2 separate regions of the Homo sapiens genome follow, and region 2 is linked to region 1. A link means that fine-mapping ties the variant in region 1 to the expression of a gene that starts in the linked region. Tissue or cell type: tibial artery. Region 1 holds a variant in brackets; the other region holds the start of a gene. All regions are shown on one strand. Distances are between the middles of the regions.

Region 1 (2,683 bases):
TCAATGAATTGGACGTTTCCAAAAAATGTGCTTTCCGCTCTCAATTTGCATCGCCAATGCTGCTTTCCCCAATGAGTCCTGTGCACCTGACTAGCTTGTAAAAATGTCACCTTACTGTTAAAGTGCTAAACACGCCCTGTTTTTCCTCCGCCTGTTCTCTCTCTCCCTCCCCCCTCTCTGCCTTTTTCCTTCTGCAATTCTTTGCTTTCTCATTAGAAATGCCCAGCAACGTCTGGCAGACAAAGACACTGCAAACAAAGTGTATGGAAAGGAAAAAAAAAATTAAAAGGGAAAAAAGTGCAGAGGAATTCTTCATTCACGGATCTGTAGAATACATTAATATCTGAAACTGTTGGCACAGCCTAAAATACTTGGGCGGCTAACAATGCGGGCAATGATTCCGAGTCTGGGATCTTCAAATAAACCCCAGCGCTGTCATGGCCACCAGGAAGGAGAATAATGGCGATATTAGCTGACCTTCATTTTGTTGTTTCTTCAGTCCTGACTGCTGGACCTCTGTTTGCTTGTTACTAGGATTTCTTAGCTGAAAAATTTTAGCATTTCCCAGGCAATACAAGAGCCAGTTTATTAGGTAAATAAACCAGGCCTTAAGCAGTCTTTTCTGCTCCATAATGGGAAATGGGCAAATTGGAACGAGGGTTGAGTTGGAGTCAGGGAGAATGACTCAGAGGCAGAGATCTCATCATTTCCCCCTCATCCAAAACACCAATGAACAATGCGGACGGAGTTAACAAATCATCAGATCGACGTGCTGCCTTTGGTTAACTTAACCAACATCATCCACCAAGTAAGGAAGACAAGATTCACAAAAGGAAGGGACAAAAATAGCGGCTTTCTTCTTCTAGAGACCTAGATCTGTAATGACATTTCACTTCTCCCAAGGTTCCAAGGAACTGGAGACTATTTTATAATTCATCCAAATGGAGCTAATGGTGCTATGTTTCAGTCATCTGTCATAAATGCTTAAACATTCTTATGTTATTCAAACCATTGTCTAGTGACAATCTTAACGATGTTAATAAAATCAGTAATGCAGAACTGGATCCTTTTTCAGAGTCTCTACATCCAGAGGGCCTTCTGGCTGTCTAGACTGTAACACAATTGGTAATTATTACATTTATGTGTGCCTGCTTACTGTTTACTATCTCGATTCCCTCCCCCAACTGCAATATAAGCTCCCTGAGGGCAGGGACCACCATTGTATCCTACCTCACCCAAC[A/G]CAGTGCCTAGCACCCAAGACGTATTTGCCTAGGGAGGTAATGATATTTTTGGCTACCTTTGGGGAAATGCATCCCATCTTTAAAAGCTTTCAGCTGCCACGCCCAAGGGCTTCAAGATGAGAACGAGACACAATACTTCTTAAAGCAGAGTATTCCCCTACCGAGAATGAAGATATGCGTCCAAGTTTCCTGTCGCTTCCAGCTTTCAATTCTTTTTTAACTGTGCTTTCTTTTGGGATTAAAAAATAATAATCTCAATTTTTAGATTCAGGAGGTACATATACAGATTTGTCACATGGGTATATTGTGTGACACTGAGGTTTAAGGTACGAATGATCCCCTCAGCGAGGTAGTGAGCACAGTATCCAATAGGTGGTTTTTCAGCCTTTGCTCCCCTCCCTCTCTCCCCCACAATAGTCCCCAATGTCTTTTGTTCCCATCTTTATGTCCATGTGTATTCAATGTGTATCTCCCACTTATAAGTGAGAACACATGGTATTTGGTTTTCTGTTCCTCTAGCTTTCAAATTAAAATAACTTATTTTATTTTTTTTGAAACAGAGTCTTGCTCTGTCACCCAGGCTGGAGTGCAGTGGCATGATCTCGGCTCACTGCAAGCTCCGCCTCCCGGGTTCACGCCATTCTCCTGCCTCAGCCTCCCGAGTAGCTGGGACTATAGGCGCCCGCCACCACGCCCAGCTAATATTTTGTATTTTTTTAGTAGAGATGGGGTTTCACTGTGTTAGCCAGGATGGTCTGGATCTCCTGACCTTGTGATCCGCCCGCCTTGGCCTCCCAAAGTGCTCGGATTACAGGCGTGAGCCACGGCGCCTGGCCTAAAATAACTTATAATAAACACTTGCTTCAAGCAGGAGGTCATGTAAATAGATATAACACACACATGTTTTTTAAAAGTTACACAGTCATTTTGTTGGAAAACATGGAAGACATAGAAATTTTTCAGACTGCCTAACTGCTCAATGGGTTCACCTTACCCAATTTGTAACTGCCCAGTGGGTTCACCTTACCTGCTGCCTAGACAGAGCCGATTTCTCTAGACAGGGGAATGGCAATAGAGAAACAGTAATTATCACAGAACCGGCTGAGCAGGAGACTGGAGTTTTATTATTACTCAAGCCAGTCTCCCTGAACATTTGGGGATCAAGGTTTTAAAAAACAATTTGGTGGGAGGGGAGGGGCAGTGAGCTGGGGAGTGCTGATTGGTTGGGTCGAAGGTGAAATCATGGGTCGTCCCTGTCTTCTTGCACTGAGTCAGTTCCTGGGTGCGGGGGGGTGTGGGGGTGGGGGGCAGTCACAAGATCAGATGGGCTGGTTTCTCAATCTGGGTGGTGCCGGTTGATCCATCAAGGGTAGAGTCTGGAAACCATCTCAAGTCCTGACTGTAGGAGCAGTTTAGGGAGGGCCAGAATCTTGTAGTCTCCA
Region 2 (2,683 bases), 240 kb after region 1:
TATATATATATAAAAATATAGATTAAAATAACAAATTCATTGTAAAAAAATCATTAATGGCTATTTCCAAATTATAGAGTTAAAGATGCTATTTATTTTCCTTTTTGCAAATTTTCAATATTCTCTAAATTGAATATTCTCTATCAAGGGGTGTATATAACTGTTAAAATTAGGGATTTTGGGGTTTTTTATTTTTTTTTGAGACGGAGTTTCGCTCGTGTTGCCCAGGCTGGAGTGCAATGGCACGATCTCAGCTCACCACAACCTACACCTCCCGGGTTCAAGCGATTCTCCTGCCTCAGTCTCCCGAGTAGCTGGGATTACAGGCATGTACTACCATGCCCGGCTAATTTTGTATTTTTAGTAGAGACGGGGTTTCTCCATGTTGGTCAGGCTGGTCTCGACCTCCCGACCTCAGGTGATCTGCCTGCCTCGGCCTCCCAAAGTACTGGGATTACAGGCGTGAGCCACCACCGCGTCCGGCCTAAAATTAGGTTTAAAAAAGTAAATGCTAAATTAAATAATTGGCCCAAATAACCTAGATTCCAGGTAACTCAACTTTGTTCTTGGAATCCATTCTTCTAATATCCAGGATGTGGGCAACTTAAACAATTATAAACTATATTAGAAATAACAACATAAGACACATATTCCAACAAGAACGTTATAGAGCTGTAATATGTTTTTAATTATTAAGCAGAAAGGTCAAGTCTATGTTCAATAACAATACGTTCCTTGGGATCAAACAATATGTTCCTTGGGATCAAAAGTTGCATCTTTCATCATGCAGTCCTTGGGATTAACTGCTAAATAAATCACCCTTATCAGCTATTGTTTTACTGCAGAAGCTACTGCTAAAGGAAAAGACTTCATGATATTAACTCAAGAAAGTGCAAAATGCCTTATAAACAAGTGCACAATTTCCCTCCCAGGTTCCTGTATCTGGAAGGGCCCCCAAGATCTAGGTCTTAGCCCCAGCTGGTTACTAACTGGCTGGTGGCCATGGATTCTGAACCTCGGTTTCTCCACCTGTGAAATAAGGGGGTTTACCGGGATGGACTGACATGCTACAAAAACGTTATTTCGACTTCACTTTTATAGGAGTCCAGGGAAGCCTGCACCAGCCAGCTAGCTCCAAAACCAGGATGGGCGGGAAATCCCCGCAACGAGATGCAGCCCAGAAAAGCTAAAGGAATATTCAGAGATTTGGCGTAAGTCCTCAGCTCTCCAGCGGACCACCTGGTCTCCTTCCCGGGCCACCCTTGCAAGGACCAAGTGTGGCGGGATGTGGCTGAGCCCCCTCAGTAAAGGAAAGGTCTCGCTGCCCCTCCCCTCATCCCGAAAGGCCACCAGCGGCAATGCGAAGTGATTGCCTGCTCTCCGGAAGCCCGGCCTCCCCGAAGGTCCCTCCACGCACCGCCGCCCTCACCCGGGACTCACCAGGGGTCCGGTGCCATCCTGCAGACTCCGCCCGCCGCTCGGACTCTTCCTGCTCTTAGCAGCTGACTACGGCGGCCCGCGCGGCTCACTCCCCGCAGTTCGTCCCGTGCGCGACCGGAGCCTGGAGTTTGCAAAGTGAGTAGCTAGGGCCTCAGAACTATAATCAGAGAAAGCAAAGCGCTCCCCTGCGGACAGTACACTGGAGCAATCTACTCCCACCAAGAGACGCGAACTGCTAAGCTCAGTTAAAATTGTTAAATAGAAACAAAGCATTTTCCCAGGAAGGTGGGAGCGCTGCAAGACCTCTCTGTAGCAGTTACTTAAAAATTTATCCTGCTTCAAAAACAAAACAATAAACAAAACACTAGATTGCGGTGAGACTTGCACGCTGCGTAAACTCACTACAACCTACTTTAAGTTAACTTTATGATATGTAAATTATACCTCAACGCTTTTTAAAAAATCTTTAAAATTTTTTTCACACTGCTCCAAACAGGGGCCCAAAGAAGTATCAATTATATATATTTTTTATAGCAGCCTTCCTATCAGTCCTGTACGCCTGATTACATATTTTTTAAATGCCATTCATTCGGTGCTTGATTTTAGAGTTACTAAGAAGTCACAGACTCTACACAAGGGGATGGAGGAATTAGTTCTGCGCAGTTAGTGCCATCCCCTAAATTTCCAGAGAAATAGCACAAAAAAAAAGAAGAGGAGTCCCACCCCATCTCTCTTCCAGTCCCCATACCCCTTCATTTCCAAGAATGCTAATGAACTCGAACTCGGCAGGCTGGGTTTCTGCGCGGGCGTGGAGCTGGAGCGCATGCGCTCGTCCGTTACCATAACGACCAGAAGACGCTGCAGCCACTAGGGAGGAGAGCAAAGTAATCAGAACCTCCCAAGGATGGATAACAAAATTTCGCCGGAGGCCCAAGTGGCGGAGCTGGAACTTGACGCCGTGATCGGCTTCAATGGTGAGGCCTCCAGCATCTTTGGGCTGGCTGGTTTAGGAATTCGGAGGACGTGTAGTGCAAACAGGAATAGTGAGACACCGGGGACACCTGAAAGGCAGTGTGGGACAACGGCAGGAGCCCTGGCCAGGGACACGCACAGGAGGACCCGCACAGCCTGACCTGCCCCAAGGCCTTGGAGAGTCACTTCCTCGATCCAAGCCTCAGGGAGTGAGATGGTTTTTACCAGCTCGGACAAGCGCCAGCACCTAAAAGGGACCAAATGCCTCTTC

The links. PIP is the estimated chance that this variant, and not a neighbour inherited with it, causes the effect.
Region 2: STX8 starts here. The variant in region 1 is fine-mapped to the expression of STX8 in tibial artery (GTEx, PIP 0.98).

The regions. Positions count from the first base shown.
Region 1 is chr17:9,331,612-9,334,294 of GRCh38, forward strand. All of the region lies in intron 7 of STX8 (syntaxin 8), which reads right to left. Among named protein-coding and RNA genes, the nearest start is that of STX8, 240 kb to the right of the region's middle. The variant A/G (reference allele first, on the strand shown) is at 1,241.
Region 2 is chr17:9,574,352-9,577,034 of GRCh38, forward strand. STX8 (syntaxin 8) reads right to left here and starts at 1,469. Exons shown (of 8, transcript NM_004853.3): 1 at 1,441-1,469. The coding sequence starts at 1,457. It overlaps CFAP52 (cilia and flagella associated protein 52), which reads left to right and starts at 2,291. Exons shown (of 14, transcript NM_145054.5): 1 at 2,291-2,414. The coding sequence starts at 2,345. RefSeq lists enhancers at 1,452-1,631, 2,424-2,553.